3 separate regions of the Homo sapiens genome follow, and regions 2 and 3 are each linked to region 1. The links come from fine-mapping of genetic effects on gene expression. A gene starts in region 1. Each other region holds a variant in brackets. All regions are shown on one strand. Distances are between the middles of the regions.

Evidence for each region. PIP is the estimated chance that this variant, and not a neighbour inherited with it, causes the effect.
Region 2: its variant is fine-mapped to the expression of CLXN in neutrophils (BLUEPRINT, PIP 0.95).
Region 3: its variant is fine-mapped to the expression of CLXN in prefrontal cortex (ROSMAP, PIP 0.95).

The regions. Positions count from the first base shown.
Region 1 is chr8:48,728,959-48,739,494 of GRCh38, forward strand. CLXN (calaxin) reads right to left here and starts at 6,310. Exons shown (of 6, transcript NM_024593.4): 1 at 6,136-6,310; 2 at 2,390-2,545; 3 at 1,582-1,686; 4 at 762-913; 5 at 84-188. The coding sequence starts at 6,193. RefSeq lists an enhancer at 5,715-6,389.
Region 2 is chr8:48,767,551-48,778,086 of GRCh38, forward strand. No RefSeq gene overlaps it. Among named protein-coding and RNA genes, the nearest start is that of CLXN, 38 kb to the left of the region's middle. The variant C/CA (reference allele first, on the strand shown) is at 5,546.
Region 3 is chr8:48,793,806-48,804,341 of GRCh38, forward strand. The region is part of intron 2 of LOC105375825 (a long non-coding RNA gene); the gene reads left to right. Among named protein-coding and RNA genes, the nearest start is that of CLXN, 64 kb to the left of the region's middle. RefSeq lists an enhancer at 5,251-5,813. The variant T/C (reference allele first, on the strand shown) is at 6,052.

The sequences.
Region 1 (10,536 bases):
GATCCACTACCCATTAAATCAAGAAGTCCTGGGTTGTTCTACATTCTACTTTGATTACCGTTCAGGGAAAGTCATATCAATACCTTTGGATCAGGAAGACATGGCCCAAAGGCCTCCAGTAGAAGAGTCTCTTCTCTCACAGCCAGTTCATAGTCTGCAAAAGACAGCTTCCCATCATGGTCATGATCCTAGGGGAATGAGAAACATGTTAGGCAACACGTAAAATGATTACTGCAAATACATGCTCTTTTCATAGTCAAGTGTTAATTTAAAAAAATGTGCTAGGCTGGGGATGGTGGCTCAGGCCTGTAATCATAGCACTTTGGGAGGCTAAGGCGGGGTGATTCCTTGAGGCCAGAAGTTTGAGACCATACTGGGCAACATAGTGAGACCTCATCTCTATTAAAAAAAAAAATTAGCTGGGCATGGTGGTATGCGCCTGTAGTCCCAGATACTTGGGAGGCTGAGGCAGGAGAATTGCTTGAGCCCAAGAGTTTGATGATGCAGTGAGCTGTGATCATGCTACTGCACTCTAGTCTGGGAGACAGAGCGAGACCCTGTCTCAAAAAAAAAAAAAGTGCTAGAAAAATAAGAGGTTAGGTGGTGAAACTGAAAAGAACTATTAATATGTTGAGGAGCATAATTTATGTGTTTTATTTAAGCAAGCAGAGAACTGAAAATTATAATAATTTGAATTCTTATTTCTAGCCCATATCTGGCCCACAAATTTTAATAAAAAACTTGACATTACCCATATTTACCATTTTCTTCAGTGTTATTTCAACCAAATCTTTAATTCCTTCATCAGGGTCTTCCTCAGATGGCTGTTTGAGAAGGCTGTTCTTCAACATGTGAAACATTTCCTCCTTTGAAATGAATCCGTCACCATTCAAATCAAACACTTCAAAGCAATCTTTTTAAGAAAATAACAAATCATGAATTTGATGCTATCAGTAAGGTAATATTTTCTCTGATAAACTTTTCAGGGCCAAGTTCTATCTTGATGCTGTACCCACAGGTCTTAGTGCAGCCTGATTTGCATTGTAAGTGTCAACGTATACTAGGATATATACAATAATCCTTAGAAAATATTTCCTGATTCTCAATTATGAAAAAGCATACCAAGGAACAGTAACTTGAATATCTTCACCTTGAAACTCTTGGAAAACTGATTGAAATATGGCTCATAAGCAGAGTTCATCAGAATTAATTGAGAGTTAATTAAGAATAAGAACACTTGAATCAATATTCTCTAGTTTTATGGTTACAATTCAAGTAATGAAATCTGTCAAATGCTTAACATATAAATGTATATGTACATAATTAGCATATGTAGTAATGCCTATGGTGTCTTCCTTCGCATAAATTACTCCTCAGAATCACTTGAGTTTTCTTTTTATTAACTTTCTTTCATATTTTATTGACTTGAATTCATTCCATAAAATAGGTTAGTGGGATTCAAACCAACTAACCAGCCAACCAACAAACCCACTTTACTGTCTTGGTTGAAAGACACTGATTTAAGTGCTTTAGATATGTTATTCATAATGTACGAACCAATAGGACAACCTGCAATCTTACATTTCATTTTTTCTTCCAAAGATCCTCGAAGAAACAGTGATAATCCATGAATCCACTCCAATACATTTACACAGCCATCATTATCTTTATCAAAACCTCGGAATACTAAAGGGAGAGAGGTTAAATGGAACACCTGTCCTGCATAATAACTCTCAGTAAAGTATCTACATTGGCATCACTCACTTTTAAAATTAAGAGAACACTTCAGCTTGTGAAGTCCAATATTCTCATTTGACGAAAGAGGAAACTAAGACATCATAATATCATGAAACTCTTTTATTAAACATTCAATTTTTAAAATGTTTTTGTGGGAACAAATACAATTCTCAATGTCTAAGTATATTAATCATTATTTAATAATAAATATGTTGCTATAAAATATGTTGGTCATATTAGATAAATATATGAATATAAATAAAATACTTAATAGTTTTGTTACTCAAGTCATTACTTGATGCATAGAATTATATCTTGTCACTGAAATATCTTCTATGATGTAAAGAATGTAAATGTCCTTTTAAAACTATTCTATTTATTATGTTTATTAAGTGGAAATCGAAATGTTTTAGGTTTTCTGATATAAGGTAAGAGAAAGATGTCAACATGACTTTGTCTTCTTCTTAAATACACAAAATAAAGCCAATATTACCTCCTTTTCTATGATCTTCTCAAAATTAAATTTGTATATTCCAATGACACTGGGAATGCAAAACACTAAGCTTCCTACCAAGAGGATGTCCAAGCACCAAACCCTTTTTTTTTCAGTTATGGCTGGATTTGGCTAATTTGAATCTTGTGTGTCTCTTACCTCTGTCCATAATCATGTCATCTGTCATTCCAAATGTCACATGCAGGATGTTTCGAAATGCATTACGATCCAGTCCAACAACCAGACCTTGCCTCTCTACTCCTCCCACCAAGTCATAAAAAAGCTTTATAAGACAGTTCACTTCAAATTTATTAACTGAAATAATAAAATAGATATAACAAAAATGAACCCTTAATCTTTAAGTTCTAACTTAAATTTTGCAATAAGTTTACAGACAAACAACGTCAAAGACATCAAATAGGTAATTGTCAATAGAAGACTCTCCTGTTTTGAGATTCATGAACCCTTAACTTAATAGAAATAAAAAAAGCAGCATACCCTCCAAACAGGAATTCCCATGTTTAGGGAAAAAAATACGATAGTATTAGCCAAGTTACTAGAATAATGATGGTGGTGTCGGATTCTAAACTCTACAAGGCTAGTAGAAATACGTCTCAAAATAAGAATGGTAAGACTAAAGAATGGTAACTTTTTCTCAGTATTTTTACCATGGCATTTACGAGATTTACAACTTCTTTTCCCTGGAAATAGATGTCAGATTCATGAGAATTAGGTAACAATTTTCATTTCAGTTTAGCCTTCATTAATTCATAAGCCAGATTTTGGAAACTAGAGTCACCAGTTTTCCAATAAAAAAGCTTTAAAGCATATTTTAGCACCCAATATGGCTCTTCTTGAGGATTACGTAAAAATTAACATGCAACTATTCAGTAATAGTTTGGAGGAAGGAAATTTTTATTTAAAGGATATACACACAAACAGATACTTGCTCATACACATTATTGTATAAAGGACCATGGTTATAAATACCGAGTTAATTATTTGTGTTCCAATCCCCATTTGAGAATGTAGGTGGAAGGGTTATTGCCTGGTCTTGATAATATAAAAGCTCAAATACCAAGTATGGGCGGAAGTTGGGGAAAATTTATTTTGAAACCAGTCAAAACTGTGATTGAGCATTTTAACAAACAAGGACAAAACCTGTGTGTGTATAACAGAAGACAGCATCTAGGAATGGAAAAATCACACCTCATCCTAGAGGTCAGTACAGGCATTTGTGGGATTTCTGGTTTGGAAAACCACATTTAAAGAGAAACACTAAAAAGTCTGGGAAAAAAGATTCAGCAAATAAATAGTAGGAAACAATATAATGGTTATGATTTCAAAAACAGCTGTTAGTCACTGTGGAAAACAGTATGATAGCTCCTCATAAAAATTAAACACAATTATTGCGTGATCCAGGAATTCTACTTCTATTTACATACTCAGAAGAACTGAAAGCAGGAACCTGTACAACAATGTTCATAGTGTCATCATTCACAACAGTCAAAAGACAGATGCAAGAGTCCATCAATGGAGGAATGGATAGACAAAATGTGGTGTATTCATACAATGAAATATCATTCAGCCTTAAAAAGGAAGAAAATTCTGACACATAGATGAACATTTATGGATATTGCACTTAGTCAAATAAGCCAGACACAAAAGGACACATATTGTATGATTCCTCTTATATAAGGTACTTAGTCAGATTTATAGAGACAAAGTAGAATGATAGTTGCCAGGGACTAGGATGAGGAGGGAATGGTGAGTTAACATTTAATGGGTAGAGTTTCCACTGGGAACAATGAACAAGTTACGGAGGTGGATGGTGGTGTTGCAAGCAGAACAGTGTGAATGTACTTAATGCCATGAAATTAAGCACTTAAAATGGTTAAAATAGTAAATTTCATGTTATATGTAACCACATACACACACACACACAAACCTCCTAAAAAGCAAGAGCTGTTAGTTGTTGCGGAAGAAAAGCCTGCATGAAGAATGATGTACTCTGTTCATGTACATAAAATGGTAGCAGAGGGGATGTTGGTTAGCCATTTTTCCATCTCAGCTGAAATAAAAATTTTTAAAAACTAGTTTAATTTATTACCCAAAGGATCAAAGGTTAGCCATAAGAAAACTTTTATTGCTAAACATTTCTTAAATTCTAGAATACAATACTAAATGAAACAAGAAAATTCAAGAATAGGTTTTCATCTTCTTGGAATGCTGTGAATGTGTCCTGCAGAACATATCTGTAGAACAGTGCATGAACTAGATGTTCTCTTAAGATCTTTCACTCTTCTTTGATTCTACAAAATTTATCCATTGAATCTTGATAGCTTTATTGTCTTGCAACTAAAACAAAATTTAACTTTAGGGGAAAGTTCTTCCGTTAAAGAAAATTTAAAATTATTATAATGTCCATGACGTATAACTATTTCTATAGACTTTAACTAATAATCATCTAAGTTTGTAAGACTCATTGAAAATTTTTTAGTAAACAAAAAAATCAAGAGCAGACTTTTTCCTGCCATATTTTTACTTACCTTTAAAAATATACACTCACCTTTTGATTGTTCACAGAATGATTGTCTGCAATGCATTCAAACTTACCGAACAGAGACTAAATCAAATTCAAACTTACGGAAAGGGACAAAATCAGTATTGTGTATAGCAGCTATTGCATTGTTTTTGAATATTTATCAAAAATGTTTACTAGATGTTTACTAGAAGAATACCTATTCTCCCAGAAATGAAAGTGTTTTAAGAAAAACAATAACAGAACAAAACCCTCATCAGAGTATAGTAGTCATAATAATATCTTAAATTACAGGATTTTTTTCCTAAACATTTTAAGATGCGTACACACACCATAATATTCATTTATATCACCATCCACTAAGAGAGCATTTCTTACCAGGTATTAAATCAGATACTAATGATAATTAGAATGCACTAGATCTTACAATCTCTAAAACTACATCAACATGTTTATTCCTTCTTTTTTGAGCGACTCGGTTATTTGGGGGATTGTTGCTTCTGTTTCTTCAAGTGGCCAGTAGTTTTGCAATTAGCACACACAACTTCTAAGTTTGCTCGACAGGAAATTATCTTCCTCATCTAAACCATACCCACGGCTTCCTTGCTAAAGTGCAATTATGTTTTTCAGTCTGAATATAAACTCAAAGTTTCCTATGAAATTCTAGGACCACCCTTTCAAATGCGAGATTAGAGCAGGTGCCTTCAAATAGGGCTCATCTTGTCACCTGCAAAGTCTCCTTTATCTTTCAACACCAGGGGCCACTGGAAAGTGGGAGTCTAAAGTTGGGAACCCATTCTTTACCACGTGTTTAGTTGTGCTGAACTCTGGTTTCCAAACAAATATTGTTCTGAGGCACAGATGAGATGACACAACTCATCTCTCCGAAAGATGTTGAGAAGTTGAGCACCGTTTTCTCCTATGGGTCTCTTGGTAAGCTTCCAGAACTTGGACCTGCGGGTGTATGTGCGAGCTATAAAGCAGGGTGAGTGCACGGTCTACCTTGGTGGTGCTACTTTTCTTGAGACCAGTTGGTTTTAGCATTTATTTTACACCTCATTGAGGCTAACATCACATGTTTCTATCAGGTAAAAGAAGAGGGTTGGAGAAGCAAGTAAATGCATGTGTGGGAGTGTAGGTAGCACCAGAGGCGGAGGCCTGGGTTCCTAAGATCAAACGCAAGGAGCTGGCACCCCGGGATTCCCTCTCTGACTTCTGCTTAAGGGGCCGGGGTGGAGGGGCGGTAGGTAGCCCACAGAGTCCCAGCAGGCGGGAAGCAGGCACAACAGCGGACCTTAGCACGGGGTGGGACCCAGGCTCGGTCCAGGAGCCTCGGCCTGTCCAGCACTACATTCTTACTTACAATGCTTGCAATTTTTGGTTAAGGTGTCCGTCAGCTTCTGCAGTTTCTTGCGGTTCATGTCTGGCGCTCAGAGAATCGGGCCGCGGCGGGGGTCTCTGGGCGCGCGGCTACCGAGACCCTCGCGGGACCCCCGCGAGCCCTGGTGCTGGGTCAACGCGGTGAGGTCTCAGTTACTGATCTCGTGCGCGGCCCTAACAGACGGTGTAGCCAAGGCAACGGCTCAGCCCGCCGCGGATTGGCTCCCAGGCTGCCCGCGACGTAGCCAAAGCTACAGCTGGGCCCCGCCCATCGGCTCAGCGACTGCTCGCGCTGGGTTCTCGGTGCGCGGTGCCGCCGGCAGGGTCCCAGCTGGCCGCCTTGAGGGCTGTATTCTGACTGTTGACGTTGGAGTTTAAATGTTCAGTTGTTGCTGGCTTTTGAGTTCGCAGCCTCTTTGCTTGATTGCAGTGTAAATCATTAAAATCTGAAATGTGGTGTGCACGCTGTATGAGAGGTGTTTCGGGTCGTGAGCGTCACGCCTCAAGGGAAGGCCCAAGATCTTGGACATCTTGGGGGCTGGAGCAGCGTCACAAAATAGCAAGGTGCTGTCCAGAGGACGATCTTGCCGGGCCTCCCGTCAGAGGGCTAGAAGCTTGCTCTTTGGGCGGAGCCACTGCTTAGGTTTTCAGTCTTGGTGAGGTAACAGGAGGCAGTCTGTCACCTGAGGTCTTCGAGCTTTTAGTTGTGTTTCTGAGAGCAAGGGGAAATTGGAATACAGCCACGGGTTGCCTAAGGAGCGGGACGCGTTCCGAGGTCACTAGGAGATTTCATCACTGTGTGCACATCACGGTGCACCGACACAAACCTAGATGGCCTTGCCTACTGCACGCCAGGCTGTATGGTACAACCCATTGCTTCTGGGCTGCACCCCTGCACAGCAGGTCACAGCGCGGAATGCTGCAGGCAGCTAAAACAGAGTGCTAAGCACTCTGGGGAAGGTGCAGTGTTCCAGTACAGTGTTACATCTTATGGGACCACTGTCCTAATGTTGTCTGATGTTGACTTAAATGGCGCTATGTGGCTTGTGACTGTAGTTTTTTTCTTTTCCCACTGCCCTCATCTCACTTCCAAAAGATGGAGGTTGTCTGTGGAATCTGAGGAAAGCCACGAGGAATTTTTATACTGCTTAAATAGGCATTCCCCCCAATGAAAACGGGCTGACAACACCACTTGGGTGTGGGGTACAGCCCAATCTTGCTTTTCCGGAAAATATCTCAGCAACCTTGGTCCTTTACTTATTTGAAAGACAAGTTCTGTGCCGGCAGACAAAGGATATTCCTTACATCTTCAGGGTGGGAGGACTTTCTGCTTTTCCTGATCACAGAGGGGATATCCTCTTTCAGCTAAGGCAGCAATAAAAAGGGGTGGCTCAGCCAGGATCACCAAATCTACAGTATTCTCCAGAGTGCCTGCTCGTTTAACTTCAGAGGGGAAAATGACAAACTATGTTATTGTACACATACTGGCATTTTTAGACTGAAGGCAGAAAAATTCTACTAACCATGAGTAATAATCCCAAATGAAATAATTCCAATGTCGAGGCCTCTGGTTTTTCTTTACTGTTTCATTTGTTTGTGGAATGAAGGATTGGGATGCTGTTTGAAACTAGAGCAAAGGGTGCTTGGTAAAGGCATGGACTGTGTTATCCTAAAGCAAATGTCCTAACAACAGTTACCCGATATGAATTGATGGTGATTATGAGTTTGTAACAGTAGTATTTTTAAATAGTGTTTCTACATATCCCCTTGTCTAGAAGAGTGAAATTCCTGAGACCATAGAGAACAAAAGGGAAAGACTGGACATATTTGAATTATACTTACCTGTGACACCTTATTGATTTCTGTTGGATCACAGAGCTGTAGCAAATACTTAATTCCTAGAGATTGCTGCACTGCTCACTTCAAGAGACAAGGAACCGAAAGAGTGGTTGTCAGTAATTACTAAGAGACGCTGTGGGCTCCCCACCTGATGTACTAGGCCTGTGTTGGGGAGCAGGCCTGCGCTGTTGGTGAGCACATTGGTGGTTATTTCTGGTGGCCTGGGGAGATCGCATACACCGGGTGCTTGCTATAGGTAAGCTAATTAGTTATTCCTTCACGAGTTTAAGGCCTAGAGCCCATCAGCCATGTTCCCTTAAAGTTAAAAAAATAATAAAAAGATGTAGGGGCAATATCACAGATTGTTGAAATTAAAATATGCCGGGCCAAAACTCCTTAACCTGTTGAGCAAACTTTGTAAGTCACCTCCTCCTCTTCCACTTCTTTTATCCTCCAGTTCTTTCTTCCATGCAGTTCTTTTAGCCAAAAAAATCAACCAATCTATCTATCTATCTATCTATCTATCTATCTATCTATCTATCATCTATCTATCTATCTTTCTATCTATCTATGCAAATGCATTGTTTTGTGAATCTCACTTATCTAAGAGAGTGATTTGCAGAGTTGACCTTACAATAAGGTCTTATCATCTTTTTCAGGGAAAGCACAATGTTTATTTGGAGTATGTTTTGTCAACATACGGGTAAACTTCAGAGCTTTCATTACATTCTTGTGAAGTTTTGGAACTTAATATTTTTAGACTTTAGAAACAAGTTGCAGGCCTGATTGAGTCAGTGAATAACATTTCAAAGCAAGTTGAAGTTTCTATTTGTAGTTTTAGTTGCTTATGCTGAGTAGACACAGGACTGCTTTCCCCCAAGAGCTTTCTCAGAGTAAGGCAATTAAGCCTAAGAGGCTACTTCATATTAAATCAATCAATAATGGAATAATAAAGGATTGTGTTTAATTCGTATTGGACATAAATTTTACTGTGCATGAAATGATCATAGAACTTTCCAAAAATCCAAGCAACCTCAAGATGAATAACTTTGTAAACACAGAAGTACATTAAAGTGACTATTAATGCTATGTTTCCTTTAGTTTTGTGTGCAAAACAATCTTCCCTTTGACTCAGCATTCACTGGATTGTTGCCATGATAAACAGCTTGGACCTTGACTTGATGAAATTGTTTTCCTTAATGTGGACCTTTTATGATGAAGGCCTTTGGAAACTGTTGAGGAAATGACATCATAGAATTGATCTCCAAGTATATCACAAATCTATTATAAAATTGCTTGAATAAAAGGGAAATAGGTTAGTTACCTGCATAATAGAAATTCAACTTTACTAATTTTATTTTGTGGAGACAGCGATAACAAAAATAAGAGTTATATGTGTGACCAGTTGTTTGGGTGGTCGAATCTCCAAATCTCTACCACTTGTCACTCTCCCCTTTGCTGTAGGGTTGTGGTGACAAGCTAGAGTCTCAGTATTCAGACCCACAGAACACTGTCTTATGCACAACTTCTGCATATTTTTCACCCCAACCACTCCCAGTGGCAACTCTTCAAAGAGCTCTTTCTGACACCCTACGTGAAGTGAAGTGAACCCTTCTCCACCCAGCCATTCTCTTCCTTGATACTATTTTTTTAGCACTTGCTACTGTGTGAAACAATTGTTTTTTTCTAACCTCTCCTTCCCACCAGACTAAATCACATGATCTCTCTCTCTCTCTCCATATATTTAAGTCTATTTCACTCGCTGTATCTCTGCATTTGTTTGTTTATCATCTGTCTGTACCTCTGAAATTTGACCACATGGTCCATGTTGTGTGGTCTGTATTGATGGAAAGTGGTAGGAGAACCACTCCAGCAGGAATGAACCCCAGGTTTCCCTGCAGCACCCTGGGGCTGAGTCCCTGGTACAGTAACCACAATGGAGCCTTTAAAGGGAGCTGGGCAATATAGAAGAGCTTTCATTTAAACTGACCTTTCTCCAAAATTCACACTTGATATTCACTGGTGTTGACGTATTTCTAGACTTTTTTTTTTTTTTTTTTTTTTACTGTAATCAAGTGACCAGCCAGTAAGACAAATGCCTAAGGTTTACTAAGGATAGGATTCTTGTATCTCAACATGTAATTTATAAAGTTGTAAATTAAGATGTGGCCTGTGACAGTTAATTATTATGATAGCCATAATGTCAGCAGGTCTGAAGTTTTCGGTAAAGAATCTGGCTCTTTGAGACCTGGCAGAGCTGACCAAGAAATCCTGCTGAATGTGCTGGGCTTGATCCCCTCAGCACTGGGTCATGCGCCACTGTAGCCAGAGTCATGGCAACTGTACTACCTGCAAAGCTGCCTCAGAGACAGAAGATACCCACACCTTTTTCTTACCAAGCCCAGGGCATCTTGCAACATTTGAGCCCTAACCAGGGAATTCATGAGCATCACTAAGCACAGAACAGGACCTGACCTACCCAGAGACCCCACCAGGCAATGCCTGGTCCTCTTAGCCAATGTCAACCAGAAAATAACTGGTATCA
Region 2 (10,536 bases), 39 kb after region 1:
ATAAGATATGTAATTGGAATAGCCCTTTAAATATTAAGAAAATTTAATTTGTAATTAAACCTCTACTCCTTTCCAGAAATCTTGAGGCAGAGGGTTTCCATGGAGAATGCTATCCAACCTTTAAAGAAGAATTAGTATAAATTTTAAACTACCTATTCCAGAAAATAGGAGAGGAAAAGACCCTACCCAATTCATCATACTGAAATCACAATCAGATGAAACAAAACAACAGCAACTGTAGACCACTATCCTCCTTAAATATTGACTCAAAAATCCTAACAAAATATCAGCAAATCAAAATAAGAAATGTATAAAATGAATTATATACCATAACCTAGTGTGGAGGCTAGGCTGTTCAATATTCAAAAACTGACCAAAGTTATATGCCCTATTAACAGGCTAAGAAGAAAAATCACACGATCATGTGCATAGATTCAGAAAAAGCATTTGATAAAACTTAACACTCATTCAGGATAAAAACTCTCAGAAAAATAGGAATACAGGAACACTTTGAAAATCTCACATAAAGATCATCTACAAAAATGCTACAGTTGACATACTAGTGGTGGAAGACAGCTTGCTTTCCCTTGGGACTGGGAAGAAGCCTAGCATGTCTGCTCTCACTGCTCTAATCCTGCATAGCAGTGGAAGGTATAGTCACTGAAATAAGGCAGGAAAAGACAATCAAAGGCATGTATACCAGAAAGGAAAAAATTCACAATTCTTCCTCTTTACAGATGGCAGGATTGTCTCCTTAGAAAAAACAAGGAATCTACAAAAAAACTCTTAGAACTAAGTGAATTCAAGTTCACAGGATGCAAAATCAACATACAAAAATCAACTATATTTCTCTATACTAATAATATCTCTTCATACTAATATTTCTTTGTACTACCACGTGGACTACAAAATTAAAGATACAAAACTACAAAAATACACACAAAACATGCACTGTGTAGAGAAACCTACAAAACACTGATGCAAGAAGTCAAAGAAGATCTAAATAAATTGAGAGACATACCATGTTTATGAATTGAAAGACTCAACAAAGTAAAGGTGCCAACTCTACCCAAATTGATATACACGTACACAATTCCTATCAAAATCTTAGTGAGATTTTTTGTAGATATAGACAATATTATTCTAAAATGTATATAGAAAAATAAAATAAATATAATAGCTGAAACAAGGTTATAACTCTCAAAACCCAAAAGCAATGAAGACCCCCCAAAATTATTAGAAATGGCAAAAGTCATGAATAGAAATTTCACTGGATAGAATATGTGGATGGCAAATCAGCACATGAGAAGCTGTTCTCAACACTATTGGCCAATGAGGGAATGTAAATTAAAACCACAGGAGAGAGATCATTCTACACATATAAGAATGGTTAAAATAAAAAATACCGGCAACATCAAATGCTGATGAGGATGCAGAGAAACTGGGTCTCATATATGACAGGTAGGAATGTAAAATGGCACATCTACTTTTGCAAATAGCTGGGCAATTTCTTAAAAAACTAAGCACTCAACTATCATACCAACAAGAAATTACAATCCTGGGCATTTATCCCAGAGAAGTGAAAATTTATTTTCATTTCACCCAAAAACCTGTAGCCAAATGTTCATGGCAGATTTATTTGTAATAACCCCAAACTGGAAACAGCCCAAATATTTTTCAGCAAGTGAATGGTTAAAGAAACCATGGTACATCTACACCGTGGAATTGTACTCAGCAATAAAAAGGAATGAACTATTCATGCAAGCAACAACTTACATGAATATCCAGAGAAATATATAAAACAAAGAAAAAGCCAATCCCAAAAGGTTACACACTGCGTGATTCCATTTATTCAATGTTATTGAACTGACAAAATTATATTGATGGAGAGCAGCTTAGTGCTTGCCAGGGATTAAGGATGGGAGCAGTGGGGAGGGACATGGATCCTATTAAAAAATGAAATAGGAGGCATGGTTGTGGTGATGGAAGTGCTCAGAATCTTGATTGTATCAACATCCACATCCTGGTGGCATTGTACCATAGCTTTGCAAGACATGAATGCTGGAGAAACTGGACAAATATGTGTGAGATTTGCCTGTATTATTTCTTGTAACTGCATCTGAATTTACACTTACTTCAAAATAAATATTTTCATTTAATTTAAAAAATGATTTTCTGACCAAGTGCAAATCCTTCAAGCCCTGCTTTATGGGGAATGCCTGGAACTCCCATGCCAGGTGCTGCGGGGTCCTTCACTGATGACAGCTGTCTCTTGGTGCTGGGGATGGAGACTCCTGCTTGATGTGACTGTGACCTCATAATAGTGCTCCATATCTTTAACAACAAAAGGTCTGAATTGGGGGCTCTTTGTTTTGACAGTTTTGGAGCCTGGGGTTGGGAGGGAATGAGGAACAGTTCTATACATACCTGAATGAACTGTGCGTCTGGTGCTCTCGGAGTAGATTCCATGCTGTTGAATGAAGTTTTTATGGTTCTTAGAACAGTTGTGACCACTCCTCTTGACGTCTCCTCCCCACATTCACATTTAAGTGCTTATTGAATCATTTAGGGTGCTTTTTCTGGCAAAGATAATAGAAACCTTGCTTGAATACTCATATAACAAGAATTTTGGAGGTAAGGCACATAGACAGTGCAGATGCATTATCAAGATGCAGGTCCTTTCCTTCTGTCTGCACTGCCATTCTTAGTATTCAGGTGACAACATTCATCCCCAGTTGTCAACTCCAGGCACAACTCCCCAGGCAGGTGAGGGAGCATGCATCTTGCCTTGTCTCTCTCCTGTATCTGGAGGCTGGCCCTAGCAGAGGGTGCCTCATCCTCCCATTGCCCAGAATTGGGTGACATGCCCATTCCTGACTAGACCACCTCTGCCTAGATGGGTGGATGTATGCAGTGTGTCCTGTGAGGAAGACAGGGGAGGTGTTCCTGCTAAGGTAGCCTCATGGCACATTGTACCCTGCTGTGTACCAGCTATGTGTTAGGTGCATTACATTTGGTTCTGCAACAACTTTACACACTAAGTAGTGGAGGGTCCAGCAACACAAAGGGGAGTGTCATTCATGGTGGTTGAGGCACACATGTCACTACACATCAGAGGACAGGGCTGCAAGAGGAGGAGACTTTGAAAACAGAACTACCTTCACTCTCATTAAACCCCTCATTCTCAACAGTGGTTATTTTGTGGGTTTGTACTGTCTAGATACCTTTTTTATTGTATTAACTTGTGTGCTTATTAATTATTTTTAGACAAAAAGCAAACTTTTCAGCCAATGTGACTCCTGGCTCAGCCACTTTCACATCTGGGCTCATCTTTGTGAATGAACTTGTGAATAGTTCGGGCAGAATTGTTGGAAATGCAGAGGGTGTCTTGGAATGAGCATCACGTCCCGGCTGATGTTACCCATTTGAGCATATGCCATGCTGACTTTCTATTTCTCTTCTGGGTACCAGCCACGTGTGGTTTTCAATTCTGTCTTTGGGTGATCCGTCTTTCATGTTTACAGATGGGCGAACTGACCATCCGTGGATTCCTACACAAGAGTTCCTTGATGGGCAAATAGGTAATTATTTACAAGTATGATCACAGATTTCTCAAAGCAGTGTGCCAAGCTACAAGACTCCTTTCTGTAGGAGAAAAAGGAAACTTGTAGGAATAGGAGAAGTGGAAAAAACCATTTCCTGACACCAGCATTTGTAATTAAGCAGAATATTCCATGTTGTTGCAACCAGGATTCCAAGCATTACCTGTTTCAGAGACCCCCAAGGAGTTGCTAGTTGGTTTGTTTGTACATGGTGTGTGGTAGGCACTCAACAAGTGTTTGCTGGTCAACTTTTGGTGGGTCTGGCATTTCTCTTATAGCACCTAGCTATTATAAGGATTCAGAAGGGCAGATACTGCAGATTAATGATGATTTAAAAGCAGCAAAACCCAAAGCTAACCCAGTTTTTCCTTATTATGCTCTTCAAAGCAGTTTTGGTTTGGCTTCAGCATCCCTTAGGGAAGGGGTTTGGATCCAGTCATATTTTATCTGTAATGATTCCCCATCTTAGGTTTGTAGGCAGTGCCTCCAGTCCCTATGGGTATCTCTGCCAGTCTAAACTAAATAGTGCCGATTGTATATTGAAAACATGCACTGGATTTTACAAACCAAGAGAAGCAAGAGAGAGATTTTTAAATTCTCATCAATGCATAAATACATTTAGATTTTTAAAAATAAATAGAATATTTGTCAAGGATCCACCTTAGCTAAGTCAGCATTCACACACTTGTGTGTGTGTGTGCATGCTCCTGTTCCTGTCCATGAGGAAGTGGAGGAAGGGATGGCCCTGAAGACTCTCTGTGATTGGCTTCAGTCACCATTCTGTCTAATTGTTCATTAAAATATCATAGCGCTACCCATAGGGTGAATACCTACATAAATTTCACAGTAGTTTCTTTTTGAAATCTTTCAAACAAGAAAAAGTTGTTTAAGGGCTAAGCCATGTTGCTCAGCAATATTATGTGTTTACATAATTTTATTTATTTTCTTTATTTCACAGCTCCTAGGACTTCAGGCATTAGGATTAATTCATAAGAAAGCTCACTGTGTTTCTCTGAAGTTTATTTTATGGTAGGAGAATATTTTCAATAAATTATGAACTCTGTGAAATGTATATGTAGTTGATGGACATTGAGTATATTTTCACTCTCATTGGATAGTTCTTCTGTCAAAACTTATTTCTTGTCTGAAAGCTACCAATCGGGCAACATTATCGGTACTACCATCTTCCTTACTCTTCACCCCTCCTCCTTAAGTAACAAATGGCTGTCTTTCATCCTTTGCTCTATTAGTTCTAATCAATACCCTAATTATGTAAATGATACTCAGCAGTGTTATCAGAAAGCGACTTGTTAGAGGAAAATTGTTAAGGCATAGATACACAAGGAAAGACAAAATAAACGCTTCAGAATTTTATACAAAGAAACCTTTCTATTCAAATAACAGAGAAAGTAATTTGAACAGCAGGGAGAGTGACAGAAGTTGGGGAAGGGGGCAGAAGATACATACATGTATATATCAGAGAAAAAGAAGGCATAAGAGACATGGGAAAATCCATATATGTATGTATATATATAGGTATATATACATACATATATACACACACACATTATTTTAAAAGATGCTTATAGAATCCATATATTACATTTGTGAATGTCTTTAAAGATTTGAAAAATAACTTTTAGTGAATCTAGAGAATGATGGCTGGGCATGGTGGCTCAGGCCTGTAATCCCAGCACTTTGGGAGGCCAAGGTGGGTGGATCACCTGAGGTCAGGAGTTCGACACCTGCCTGGTCAACATGGTGAAACCCCGTCTGTACTAAAAAAAAAAAAAATTAGCCAGGCGTGGTGGCAGGTGCCTGTAATCCCAGCTACTGGGGAGGCTGAGGCAGGAGACTCGCTTGAACCCGGGAGGCAGAGGTTGTAGTGAGCCGAGATCGCGCCATTACACTCTAGCCTGGGCAACAAGAGGGAAACTCCATCT[C/CA]AAAAAAAAAAAAAAAAAAAGAAAGAAAAAAAAAGAAAGAAAATAATAGTTCAATTTTACAATAAGAAAAGTGTGCTATAACATAGGTTAAATAAAGTCGCACATGAAGTGTACCTACCCTTATTGAACCTCTTCATGGGTTCCATCTCCTAGCATCATGATTTCGTTATGTTTGCCACCTGCTGTGTAGAATAGCAGATTGTTATTTTGTTCTGCTGTACTGGCATTTAATAAAAAGGCCCATGTTGAATCCATGTAGACTTTCTTTTTTTTATTTTGTTTTTATTTAATTAATTTATTTTTTTTGAGATGGAGTCTCGGTCTGTCGCCCAGGCTGGAGTGCAGTGGCGCCAACTCGGCTCAGGCTCACTGCAAGCTCCGCCTCCCGGGTTCACGCCATTCTCCTGCCTCAGCCTCCCAAGTAGCTGGGACTACAGGCGCCCGCTACCGCGCCCTGCTAATTTTTTTTGTATTTTTAGTAGAGACGGGGTTCACTGTGTTATCCAGGATAGTCTCCATCTCCTGACCTCATGATCCGCCTACCTCTGCCTCCCAAAGTGCTGGGATTACAGGCATGAGCCACCGCACCCGGCCCGAATCCATGTAGAATTTCACACCTGAGTGACCTGTGCTTCAGAGCCTGTCAAAGTCCAGGTGACAGACCTTTGACAACTCACCCCAGGGGAGCTTACCTGCACTTTCTCTGTGGCACTGAAGTGTTTGTCCTGGGACCCTGCCTGCTGGTTTCCAGCAGTGTTTGCGTGGCCTGTTTTTCTGTGGTGACACGCATGGACGTATGATTTATACTTGTGGATCACTCCTGCTGCACAGCAGGTGCTATCCAGCCAGCTGCAGCTCTGCTACTTCTGCTCAGAAGCACGTGGGAACACACTGGAGAGGAGAGTGAGTTTACCACAGGGAGAACTGCATACTTTCTAATTTACAGAACTTGGCGATTCTCTACTACTTAACAAAGTTAACAAATAACTTTTGGCACACCTCACAGAGAGGTGACATGCAGTGACCCTTGATTGCTCTGCCTGCACTGTGGCAAACACGGAACCAGAGCCACTGCGCTGCGGGAAGGCAGAGTTCAAGGGGTGGAGGGCGGGGGTTAGAAAAAGCCCTAGGTGAGCCCTCCCTGCTTCCTCCTGCTTCAGCTGGCCAGGAAGGTGACTGAAGCCATCAAAGCCTCTGTTTCCTCATCTGTAAAGTGGGAATACATGACCCCCAACCTCATTAGACTTTTGTGATTATGCAATGAAATGACCAGCTTAAAGCATTTAGCGTGGTGCCTGGCACAGAGTGAATAGCTGATATACCCTAGCTCTATTATTATAGCTAATCTAGCTATCTCATTTGATTGTCTTCCTGAAGAAATGCTTTCAGTAAGTGATGTTTCATCATAGACATCATAAAACTTTACATTCTCAATGTTTTCAAACTTCTTAGCAACAGGATCTATTACTAACAAACAAGATCATTAGAAAATAAAAAGTATAACATTCAAAGACCATAGCTATGATGAAAAGGACAATTTGTGTAGTATTATTCAATAGTGTCTTGAAAGATGCCATCATTTTTACAGTTGGTGTTTTAAAATATCTTTCTATATACAGAGAAGTCGATTACTCTGAAGATTTTTATGGGACCGGTAGCCTTTGTGTTTCTTCCTGCTATAGCTTTCAGACCATCAGCACATAACATTTTTGCCAACTTATTGATTACGTTTTTAAAATTAGCATAAATTCTTAAAATTCTTTCTTCTTTTGTATCCATGTCAAAAGGTTAGCAAAATAGGATATATTCACGTTTGTCTGCATTTGTCTAAAAATGCCAGAAAAAAGAGATCTGTATATTTGTGCTCTTTTGAACTTTGACGATATCACATAATCTTAAATATCAAACTAACTCAATAGGTATTATAATTTTTTTGGAGTATTCATTTTATTATCAGAAAATGACTATATAGCCCTCTACCAACTACCATACTTATTACAATGTCTAAGTAGAGGCTGTAATAATTTTTTAATAAACTGATGCATTTCTTCCTCGAAGGCTACACAGCAAATTGCTTTGAACAACCTCCCAACTCACTTTAAAAAGGTTTGAATTTTGCATATATTTTCAATAATACTAAGTCATTCATTCCTTGTGTGCATAAAAAAGTTAAAAAATATTTTCTTGTCCTCAATATGTTTTATTTCAAGATGCCCCAGCAGAGACCCCAGAACTATTCTGCAAACGTTTATTGTAGAGGTTGCTTTGAGGTCTTGGGTGTTTTCCATCCCATAGTTGGATATGTTTTGCCATCCTTTCTTGTCACTGACTTCGTTTGAAGGTCAGCATCTACTGTGTCATTTGCATCTTGTCACACAGTGGACAGCAGGTGATGAATTAGCTCATGCAATATGGTTAATTTCATATAAAGCCAATCAATAACATTATATTCATTATTAAAGCTTCTATTAAACATCTTGTTTTTAACCAGAAATTTACTACTAGTTTTAAAGCGAACTATTTCGTACTGTGCAGTTTTCCACCAGAGAAAAAAATACACAGGCTGAAAATTATAACTTTACTTGAATAGATCAATTTATTAGAACATATAAACTGAGATAGGCACCTGGTTCCATTGAGATAAGCAAGGGTTCAAATCCTGGCTCCTTCACTTCTAAGTAGGATATAATGCTTATAGTATTATAACACAGTTTTAAATTTGTGGATTGAATTTACCAGCCCATCCCAAATTTATAGGGTTTAGAATGTCAAATAAAGGCTGACCATTAAAAAAATACATAAAGTTGGAGTGGTTTATTATTAGTAAACAGAGCTTTTTATTTTATGAATAATATAAAATCTCTAAACAGAATTGCTTTTTGTAGATACATTGTCTTAAAACCAGCATTTAAGTTGCTTATATTTTGTGGGTTATTTCCTTTCCATTTTAAGTCTTGAGTCTAAAACGTGAAAAGGGGATTGAACAATAAGGAGACTCCTTCAAAGAACTGATACTCTAGAAGACATCAGCACTTGAGAGAATAGCTTTTAAACAGCAGCTGAAATATGAGGCCTCTCTTTTAGATATCCTAAAAATCATCTTCTTTATCGTGTTTTATCGTGTTTTCTCTTTCTCGGGAAGCTGTGTCCTCTGTGGGCAGAGCCAGGGTCGCAGACATGAGTGGATAGATCAGCGCGGAAAATGCTGGCGTGAGAAGACCTCACTCAGACTTCCCAGGCCCACACTGATGGACACTTTTCATTCCCTTCCGCTTCTTCCATTCTCCCTCTTTTCCCAAGCTCCATGTTAGATACTTTTAATCTTATGTCCTTCTTCTCCAATTCAACAAGTTCCCACTACTGAGGACCTTTTACACTTCTTTCTCTATTGACCTTTGTTTCCTGGACTTGGTAACAAGATTACACTAAGTATCAGAAAGAGTCCAGATGAGTTATTTTGCTATCTTTTATTTAAACACAAACAAGCAAACCAGCATCTCAAAACATAATCTACCCCATTCTCTTGTTATCTCAAAAGTTTGTCTTGGCTGGGCACAGTGGCTCATGCCTGTAATCTCAGTACTTTGGGAGGCCGAGGCAGGTGGATCACTTGAGATCAGGAGTTCGAGACCAGCCTGGCCAACATGGTGAAACCCTGTCTCTACTAAAAACACAAAAATTATTCCGGTGTGGTGGTGTGTGCCTGTAATCCCAGCTACTCGTGAGGCTGAGACAGGAGAATTGTTTGAACCTGGGAGGCAGAGGTTGCAGTGAGCCGAGATCATGCCATTGCACTCTAGCCTGGGTAACAGAGCAAGACTCTATTTCAAAAAGAAAAAAAGTTTGTCTTTTGATATAGTCACTTAATATTGTTGAATTAGTATAATTTTAATTAATAGATTGTTTCTAAAAAACATAGTTCCTTTTGGTGACACATGTGATTATGGGAGATTGCTAGAGGAAATCATCACAGTTTATCTTTAAAATACCATGGGATTTTTTTGGTAACAGTTACGTAATTGCCATCAGGCATGGAATATTTTGGTGGTGCTGAAATGCCTGTGCACTCAGATATACATTTTCTGCTCTGCAGCAGAAGGAATATTGGAAAATGCACATTTAGTTTTGGGGGGACTATGAAATGGAAATTGTGTATAACCGTTTCTCTTATTCAACCACAAAGGGTGTGGAACATTATTTCATAACGATCTGTTTGTTGGGTCCAGAATTCAGTCTCTTTTAAGGGAAACGTAAAATAAAAGCCATCATGCATAATTATAGAGTTGATGTGTTTATTTTTATATAAGGCAATCATTTCAACAAAAATTTTGAGCTGTTTAATAAAATGTGACCACTATTTACTACTACCCCAAGTCTTGACTTCAGGGGCTGTTTACTAGCCAGCTGGTGGTTTTATACACTGGAAGAGTTTGGCGATGTGTCTCATGGCTTCGTTGAAAGGCTCTCCTATGTCACACAGACTTTTCTTAATTTACTCATGCATTCGTGCAATCTTACTGTGGGTGATTATTCTATAACTGTCCCCCAAGGGCAAGGAAGGGCTCTGGACACTTGGTGCAGGAGTCGGAATGCCCTGTTTCCTGCAATCTCCATCGCTACCCACAGAACAGTTGCTCCTGCACCAGGGAGGGGGTTTCTTTGCATTTTCTCAACCCCGTAGTAAATTCAGGGGGGTTTGTGAATGTGCTGTCATCACAGTTACTGGTTCACCGTCAGTCTGGTGCTGCCACCTCTGAAATCCGACATGAACATCTCACTCCCCCAGCTCTTATCTGGGCTCAGCTGCCCATGCTGCCCATGACTGCACTCCACCAAGCAGCTGGCTGGACCGTCTCACTGCCCTGTGGACAAGCCGTCTAAGGCGGAAGTCTTTGTTAGAGTGTGGTCTGTCTTGTGAAGCTGCAGACATGATGTCCCAGCACACAGTGAGGCAGGGGACATCCTGGAGGCCATCTGAGCAGCCAGAGTTA
Region 3 (10,536 bases), 65 kb after region 1:
CTTTAAAGTAAGGTTTATACCCCACCACACAGCTAAAATTCTGTTAGAGCCTTTTTATTAATTGTTTTTTTATTAAGTTATAATTTTATTAATAATTTTTTTTTCTTTTTTTTATTATACTTTAAGTTTTAGGGTACATGTGCACATTGTGCAGGTTAGTTACATATGTATACATGTGCCATGCTGGTGTGCTGCACCCACTAACTCGTCATCCACCATTAGGTATATCTCCCAATGCTATCCCTCCCCCCTCCCCCCACCCCACCACAGTCCCCAGAGTGTGATATTCCCCTTCCTGTGTCCATGTGATCTCATTGTTCAGTTCCCACCTATGAGTAAGAATATGCGGTGTTTGGTTTTTTGTTCTTGTGATAGTTTACTGAGAATGATGATTTCCAATTTCATCCATGTCCTTACAAAGGACATGAACTCATCATTTTTTATGGCTGCATAGTATTCCATGGTGTATATGTGCCACATTTTCTTAATCCAGTCTATCATTGTTGGACATTTGGGTTGGTTCCAAGTCTTTGCTATTGTGAATAGTGCCGCAATAAACATACGAGTCCATGTGTCTTTATAGCAGCATGATTTGTAGTCCTTTGGGTATATACCCAGTAATGGGATGGCTGGGTCAAATGGTATTTCTAGTTCTAGATCCCTGAGGAATCGCCACACTGACTTCCACAATGGTTGAACTAGTTTACAGTCCCACCAACAGTGTAAAAGTGTTCCTATTTCTCCACATCCTCTCCAGCACCTGTTGTTTCCTGACTTTTTAATGATCTCCATTCTAACTGGTGTGAGATGGTATCTCATTGTGGTTTTGATTTGCATTTCTCTGATGGCCAGTGATGATGAGCATTTTTTCATGTGTTTTTTGGCTGCATAAATGTCTTCTTTTGAGAAGTGTCTGTTCATGTCCTTCGCCCACTTTTTGATGGGGTTGTTTGTTTTTTTCTTGTAAATTTGTTTAAGTTCATTGTAGATTCTGGATATCAGCCCTTTGTCAGATGAGTAGGTTGCAAAAATTTTCTCCCATTCTGTAGGTTGCCTATTCACTCTGATGGTGGTTTCTTTTGCTGTGCAGAAGCTATTTAGTTTAATTAGATCCCATTTGTCAATTTTGTCTTTTGTTGCCATTGCTTTTGGTGTTTTGGACATGAAGTCCTTGCCCATGCCTATGTCCTGAATGGTAATGCCTAGGTTTTCTTCTAGGGTTTTTATGGTTTTAGGTCTAACGTTTAAGTCTTTAATCCATCTTGAATTGATTTTTGTATAAGGTGTAAGGAAGGGATCCAGTTTCAGCTTTCTACATATGGGTAGCCAGTTTTCCCAGCACCATTTATTAAATAGGGAATCCTTTCCCCATTGCTTGTTTTTCTCAGGTTTGTCAAAGATCAGATAGTTATAGACATGCGGCGTTATTTCTGAGGGCTCTGTTCTGTTCCATTGATCTATATCTCTGTTTTGGTACCAGTACCATGCTGTTTTGGTTACTGTAGCCTTGTAGTATAGTTTGAAGTCAGGTAGTGTGATGCCTCCAGCTTTGTTCTTTTGACTTAGGATTGCCTTGGCGACGCGGGCTCTTTTTTGGTTCCATATGAACTTTAAAGTAGTTTTCTCCAATTCTGTGAAGAAAGTCATTGGTAGCTTTATGGCGATGGCATTGAATCTATAAATTACCTTGGGCAGTATGGCCATTTTCACAATATTGATTCTTCCTACCCATGAGCATGGAATGTTCTTCCATTTGTTTGTATCCTCTTTTATTTCCTTGAGCAGTGGTTTGTAGTTCTCCTTGAAGAGGTCCTTCACATCCCTTGTAAGTTGTATTCCTAGGTATTTTATTGTCTTTGAAGCAATTGTGAATGGGAGTTCACTCATGATTTGGCTCTCTCTTTGTCTGTTATTGGTGTATAAGAATGCTTGTGATTTTTGTACATTGATTTTGTATCCTGAGACTTTGCTGAAGTTGCTTATCAGCTTAAGGAGATTTTGGGCTGAGACAATGGGGTTTTCTAGATATACAATCATGTCATCTGCAAACAGGGACAATTTGACTTCCTCTTTTCCTAATTGAATACCCTTTATTTCCTTCTCCTCCCTAATTGCCCTGGCCAGAACTTCCAGCACTATGTTGAATAGGAGTGGTGAGAGAGGGCATCCCTGTCTTGTGCCAGTTTTCAAAGGGAATGCTTCCAGTTTTTGCCCATTCAGTATGATATTGGCTGTGGGTTTGTCATAGATAGCTCTTATTATTTTGAAATACGTCCCATCAATACCTAATTTATTGAGAGTTTTTAGCATGAAGGGTTGTTGAATTTTGTCAAAGGCTTTTTCTGCATCTATTGAGATAATCATGTGGTTTTTGTCTTTGGCTCTGTTTATATGCTGTATTACATTTATTGATTTCCGTATATTGAACCAGCCTTGCATCCCAGGGATGAAGCCCACTTGATCATGGTGGATAAGCTTTTTGATGTGCTGCTGGATTCGTTTTGCCAGTATTTTATTGAGGATTTTTGCATCAATGTTCATCAAGGATATTGGTCTAAAATTCTCTTTTTTTGTTGTGTCTCTGCCTGGCTTTGGTATCAGAATGATGCTGGCCTCATAAAATGAGTTAGGGAGGATTCCCTCTTTTTCTATTGATTGGAATAGTTTCAGAAGGAATGGTACCAGTTCCTCCTTGTACCTCTGGTAGAATTCGGCTGTGAATCCATCTGGTCCTGGACTCTTTTTGGTTGGTAAACTATTGATTATTGCCACAATTTCAGCTCCTGTTATTGGTCTATTCAGAGATTCAATTTCTTCCTGGTTTAGTCTTGGGAGAGTGTATGTGTCGAGGAATTTATCCATTTCTTCTAGATTTTCTAGTTTATTTGCGTAGAGGTGTTTGTAGTATTCTCTGATGGTAGTTTGTATTTCTGTGGGATCGGTGGTGATATCCCCTTTATCATTTTTTATTGTGTCTATTTGATTCTTCTCTCTTTTTTTCTTTATTAGTCTTGCTAGCAGTCTATCAATTTTGTTGATCCTTTCAAAAAACCATCTCCTGGATTCATTAACTTTTTTGAAGGGTTTTTTGTGTCTCTATTTCCTTCAGTTCTGCTCTGATTTTAGTTATTTCTTGCCTTCTGCTAGCTTTTGAATGTGTTTGCTCTTGCTTTTCTAGTTCTTTTAATTGTGGTGTTAGGGTGTCAATTTTGGATCTTTCCTGCTTTCTCTTGTGGGCATTTAGTACTATAAATTTCCCTCTACACACTGCTTTGAATGCGTCCCAGAGATTCTGGTATGTTGTGTCTTTGTTCTCATTGGTTTCAAAGAACATCTTTATTTCTGCCTTCATTTCGTTATGTATCCAGTATTCATTCAGGAGCAGGTTGTTCAGTTTCTATGTAATTGAGCGGTTTTGAGTGAGATTCTTAATCCTGAGTTCTAGTTTGATTGCACTGTGGTCTGAGAGATAGTTTGTTATAATCTCTGTTCTTTTACATTTGCTGAGGAGAGCTTTACTTCCAACTATGTGGTCAATTTTGGAATAGGTGTGGTGCTGAAAAAAATGTATATTCTGTTGATTTGGGGTGGAGAGTTCTGTAGATGTCTATTAGGTCCGCTTGGTGCAGAGCTGAGTTCAATTCCTCGGTATCCTTGTTGACTTTCTGTCTCGTTGATCTGTCTAATGTTGACAGTGGGGTGTTAAAGTCTTCCATTATTAATGTGTGGGAGTCTAAGTCTCTTTGTAGGTCACTCAGGACTTGCTTTATGAATCTGGGTGCTCCTGTATTGGGTGCATATATATTTAGGATAGTTAGCTCTTCTTGTTGAATTGATCCCTTTACCATTATGTAATGGCCTTCTTTGTCTCTTTTGATATTTGTTGGTTTAAAGTCTGTTTTTTCAGAGACTAGGATTGCAACCCCTGCCTTTTTTTGTTTTCCATTTGCTTGGTAGATCTTCCTCCATCCTTTTATTTTGAGCCTATGTGTGTCTCTGCACGTGAGATGGGTTTCCTGAATACAGCACACTGATGGGTCTTGACTCTTTATCCAGTTTGCCAGTCTGTGTCTTTTAATTGGAGCATTTAGTCCATTTACATTTAAAGTTAATACTGTTATGTGTGAATTTGATCCTGTCATTATGATGTTAGCTGGTGATTTTGCTCGTTAGTTGATGCAGTTTCTTCCTAGTCTCGATGGTCTTTACATTTTGGCATGATTTTGCAGCAGCTGGTACCGGTTGTTCCTTTCCATGTTTAGCGCTTCCTTCGGAGCTCTTTTAGGGCAGGCATGGTGGTGACAAAATCTGTCAGCATTTGCTTGTCTGTAAAGGATTTTATTTCTCCTTCACTTATGAAGCTTAGTTTGGCTGGATATGAAATTCTGGGTTGAAAATTCTTTTCTTTAAGAATGTTGAATATTGGCCCCCACTCTCTTCTGGCTTGTAGGGTTTCTGCCGAGAGATCTGCTGTTAGTCTGATGGGCTTCCCTTTGAGGGTAACCCGACCTTTCTCTCTGGCTGCCCTTAACATTTTTTCCTTCATTTCAACTTTGGTGAATCTGAAAATTATGTGTCTTGGAGTTGCTCTTCTCGAGGAGTATCTTTGTGGCGTTCTCTGTATTTCCTGAATCTGAACGTTGGCCTGCCTTGCTAGATTGGGGAAGTTCTCCTGGATAATATCCTGCAGCATGTTTTCCAACTTGGTTCCATTCTCCCCATCACTTTCAGGTACACCAATCAGACGTAGATTTGGTCTTTTCACGTAGTCCCATATTTCTTGGAGGCTTTGCTCATTTCTTTTTATTCTTTTTTCTCTAAACTTCCCTTCTCGCTTCATTTCATTTATTTCATCTTCCATTACTGATACCCTTTGTTCCAGTTGATCGCATCGGCTCCTGAGGCTTCTGCATTCTTCACGTTGTTCTCGAGCCTTGGTTTTCAGCTCCATCAGCTCCTTAAAGCACTTCTCTGTATTGGTTATTCTAGTTATACATTCTTCTAAATTTTTTTCAAAGTTTTCAACTTCTTTGCCTTCGGTTTGAATGTCCTCCCGTAGCTCAGAGTAATTTGATCGTCTGAAGCCTTCTTCTCTCAGCTCGTCAAAGTCATTCTCCATCCAGCTTTGTTCCGTTGCTGGTGAGGAACTGCGTTCCTTTGGAGGAGGAGAGGCGCTCTGCGTTTTAGAGTTTCCAGTTTTTCTGTTCTGTTTTTTCCCCATCTTTGTGGTTTTATCTACTTTTGGTCTTTGATGATGGTGATGTACAGATGCGTTTTTGGTGTGGATGTCCTTTCTGTTTGTTAGTTTTCCTTCTAACAGACAGGACCCTCAGCTGCAGGTCTGTTGGAATACCCTGCCGTGTGAGGTGTCAGTGTGCCCCTGCTGGGGGGTGCCTCCCAGTTAGGCTGCTCGGTGGGCAGGGGTCAGGGACCCACTTGAGGAGGCAGTCTGTGCGTTCTCAGATCTCCAGCTGCATGCTGGGAGAACCACTGCTCTCTTCAAAGCTGTCAGACAGGGACATTTAAGTCTGCAGAGGTTACTGCTGTCTTTTTGTTTGTCTGTGCCCTGCCCCCAGAGGTGGAGCCTACAGAGGCAGGCAGACCTCCGTGAGCTGTGGTGGGCTCCACCCAGTTCGAGCTTCCCGGCTGCTTTGTTTACCTAAGCAAGCCTGGGCAATGGCAGGCGCCCCTCCCCCAGCCTCACTGCTGCCTTGCAGTTTGATCTCAGACTGCTGTGCTAGCAATCAGTGAGACTCCGTGGGCGTGGGACCCTCCGAGCCAGGTACGGGATATAATCTCGTGGTGCGCCGTTTTTTAAGCCAGTCCGAAAAGCGCAATATTCGGGTGGGAGTGACCCGATTTTCCAGGTGCGTCTGTCACCCCTTTCTTTGACTCAGAAAGGGAACTCCCTGACCCCTTGCGCTTCCCAAGTGAGGCAATGCCTCGCCCTGCTTCGGCTCGTGCACGGTGCACGCACCCACTGACCTGCGCCCAGTCTGGCACTCCGTAGTGAGATGAACCCGGTACCTCAGATGGAAATGCAGAAATCAC[T/C]CGTCTTCTGCATCGCTCATGCTGGGAGCTGTAGACTGGAGCTGTTCCTATTCGGCCATCTTGGCTCCTCCCCCCATGCTGAGCAGTTCTATTACTTCAGAGATCCCACCTTTCTTATTAATTCACTTTATTTTTTTACAACACCTTTGGATTAATGAAGAAATTAAGCAGATAGCACAGAGACTTCCCATATGCCTCTCCCGCTCCCATATAGAATTTCTTTTACTGTTAGCATCTTATGTAGCTGTGGTTTATTTGTCACAAATTAATGATAAATTATGATTTATCACAATATTGATAAATTATGATTTATCACAATATTGATAAATTATGTAACACAAGTCCATACTATATCCAGGTTTCTTGGGCTTTTACCTACTGCCCCTTTTCTGTTCCAGGATCCTGTCTACAAGGGTACACTAGGTACACTCTACCTTTAGTGAGCATGTCTTCTTGGGCTGCTTTTGATTGACTATTTCTCAAACTCCCTTCTCTCTAGTGACATTTACAGGTTTGAGAAATAATGGACAGTTGTTTTGGCAGATGCCGTCTGATGTTTTTCTCATGATTAGACTGACGTTATGGGTTTTGGGACGAAGATCACAGAGGTAAAATGCCATTTTCATCACATCATATCAAGGGTACATACTATCAATAAGATATATCACTTTAAATGTTGGCCTTGAGCTGGGCGCGGTGGCTCACACCTGTAATCCCAGCACTTTGGGAGCCTGAAGCGGGTGGATCACCTGAGGTCAGGAGTTCTAGACCGTCCTGGCCAATGTGGTGAAACCCTGTCTCTACTAAAAATACAAAAAATTAGCTGGGTATGGTAGCCTGTGCCTGTAATCCCAGCTATTCAGGGGGCTGAGGCATGAGAATCACTTGAACCTGGGAGACGGAGGTTGCAGTGAGCTGGGATCACACCACTGCTCTCCAACTTGGGCAACAGAGCAAGACTCCGTCTCAAAGAAAAAAAAAGATGTTGACCTTGGTCACCTGTTGAAATAGTGTTTGTCAGGCACCACTCCTTTTCAACATCATAGTAGAAGTCCTAGCTAGTGCAGTAAGACAAGAAAAGGAAATAAAAGATGTATAGATGGAGAAAGAAGAAATAAAGCCATCTTTGTTTACAGAAGACATGATCATCTATGTAGAAAATCCCAAAGAATCGACAACCAAAAACCCTTTTAGAACTAATAAGCGATTATAGAAAGTTTGCAGGATACAAGGTTAGGATCCAAATGTTAATTGTTTCTCTATATACTGGGAATGAATGATTGGAATTTGAAATTAAGAACTCAATATCCTTTATATTAGGACCTCAACAAATTAAATAGTTAGGTATAAATCTCACAAAATATGTACAGCATCTTATGAGGAAAATTAGAAAAATCTGGTAAAAGAAATAAAAAAATAAAAAATAGAGAAGTATTTTATGTTCATGTATAGGAAGGCTCAATATTGGCAAGATGTCACTTCTTTTTAAATCCTACAATCAAAATCCCAGTATTTTGTGGATATTGACAAACTGATTCTAAGTTGATATGGAGAGGCAAAAGATCCAGAATAGCCAACACAATATTGAAGAAGAACAAAATTGAAAGACTGGCACTACCTGACCTCGAGACTTACTTTAAAACTTCAGTAATCAAGATATCAAGATATCATGGTATTATTGGAAAGAATGGACAAATTAATGAAACAGAATAGAAAAACCCAGAAATAGACCCACATAAATATAGTCAGCTCAACTTTGACACAGGAGCAAAGGCAACACAATGAATCAATGATAATCTTTTGAACAAACGGTGCTGGAACAATTGGATATTTACTGGCAATCAAGCAATCAATAAATCCAGACACAGACTTTTTTGACATTTGTCAACATCTATAGAATGCAATTTCAAGAGTGAACCTTAAGGCTAACTATGGACTTCGGGGATACTGATGTGTCATTGTAGGTTCATGATTTGTAACAAATGTGCCACTCTGTTGGAGGATGGTGATTGTATGATAGGCTGTTATATGCTCTTGTTCTACAATAAATCCTAGTCAATTGCCTAGATAATGCCATCTGTAGATGGTATTTCAACTCTGAAAACATCCAGTAAATGGGACTCATGACTTACTGAGACACCGTATTCTATCCTTGACCCATTCTAAAGTTTTAGAAAGTTTCTATGTGTATATGGTTTCCTTTGGTTTGCCCACTTAATCAAAACAGAGCAAAGAATACCCCTCCTTCACATGAAAGTCCTTCAAATGGCTCAGATAAAGATCATGTTATATCTCACTTCTCTCTGTCCCAAGTCTTCTATTTTCCAGCTAAAATCAAACACCCAAAACACCAACAAACTTATCTTCTGGTTCTTTCTACTGTTCCTCTTATGGAGTGATTTCAAATTCTGCCCCCATCTGATCTCAAACCCCAATTACCTCCATTTGGAAGTGCCCTAATCTCAATTCACCCTCTTGGCCCATGTCCAGACACTGCATTTATATCAACTTGACCCAAGACCACACTACTGTTTTGTTACACTCATACAATAGCTTTCGTTTAATAACTATTTATTGAGCAGCTACTTTACTGAGAGATGTTCAAAATGGGAGTCAAGGCCTCAAACCAGGCAGAGGTTTTAGGGATCCCATAAGGTGTTTTCCACAATGTATTAGGAAGAAAATGGTAACAAATGTCCTAATAACACAAAGGACAGAAGGATCACATTGGCCAGGAAGACACAAAAAGTTTTATGATGTAAAAGGCTTTTTGAATCAATCTTGATGAGTGGATATGACTTGGAAATATCCAAGGAGGAGGTACATGGCTAAATTGATTGATATTTAATTTCCATTCAACCATTAACATATTTTACCAAGAGCTGAAGCTGGGCCTTGTGTCCCTATGTACATATTAGCAACATTGTTTTCTGTTTTTTCTCTTAACTTTTAACCAAATGTAAAGCATTTTAAATCTCTATTAAGATTTAAAGATTTAATGAAGCCCACCAGTCTAGACACTTGGGGTGTTTTGGTGTCCTCATCTTGCTATCCAGCCTGCTACATTCCCTACCCAGCTTCCGGTCACCCAGCAATTTAATACGTTTTCTTTCCACTCCTTCCTCCAGATGGTTAAGGAAAAGAGTGGCCAAGCCTGAGCTGAAAACAGGCCTGAACTCACACTGGAAGCTGCCCTCCACAGTACCCTTGATCACATTTATCACTCGTTGTCTCCTGCATTCTTCAACCCACATGCCAAAGGACAGAAGGAGACCCCGATAGACGCCTTCTTGGAATCCTGTTTGCCATGTATCCCTGATTTGCCAGCTGGACAACAAAGGAAATCAGGCTTGTTGGCATAGCTCCTTATTCTTTGTAAACCTCTGGTGACTTGAGTGATCACTGTCTCCTTTCTAAGCACTTGCACAGCATCCTTGGATTCTTGCCTAAGTTCTGCAGCAGGATTTCATGTCTGTAGTCAAACTGGACACTCACTTCCCACGTTCCTGCTCTTGGTGTCATCTTTCTAGTCTCCTCCCCTGTCTACAGGCAGTCATGATGACCCACAGTGGAGCAGTGGTCCTGGCCACCCATTCGTTCAACAAGTGTAGACAGTTTATCTATTTGGGTATATAATTTATTTTGGCCAAGAGGCTCAAACTACTATTGAGAAAAGTTAGAAGCAAATCACATTTTTCTTATGGTCTTGTTGGGCTTAAATTTCCTCTTAACAATATTTGTTTTGCCCGTTCTGTCCAAAATGATTTAGTTTGATGGGGAAGACTGAATTAACATAAAAATTGAGTTTTGGTTTCTGTTTATCATTCATCAGCCTTTCCCTCACTGACCTCTGGCAGGAGATCTATCTTTTCAGTTCCCTTTGATTCTATGAGGACAGCGTATGATAGTTTAAGTGGGTAAGAACATGGCTTTGAAGTGTGCACCTGGACTAGATGACCGCTGCCCTGGAGCGGGGGACCAGGCTTTTCCAGGTTTCTATCTTCTGCCCTAAAAAGTGTGGCTTATGATGCTGTCCCATCAAGTCACTATATAAATTAGAAGAAATTAGAAGTCTGTCTCTCATAGGCACTCTCTAAGTGCCAATTCATAAGCTGTTTTTTTATTCAGGTATTTGTTTAAGTTTACAAGTTTTGTTCCCTTGGTGTTTTCACATCTTTAACATGAATATTGCATGCTATGTCACTCTGTTGCATGGATCCTTGCTCACATCTCATCTTTCCATTTGTGGGCATGCTTTTCCTTAAATGCAAAGGATCAATTAAGACAACATGAATACATAGCATAGTGTTTAGTTAAAAAAAAAAGTCAGATACAAAATAACAAATTTGTGGGATTTCATTTATAGAATGTCCATAAGCAAGCAAAATGAAGTGTAATATTTAGATGCATACTTATGTATGAGAATTATTCATACCAGCAGGTGAGTGACCCTCACCACTCACAAGTAAGGTCCTTCAGAGGAGA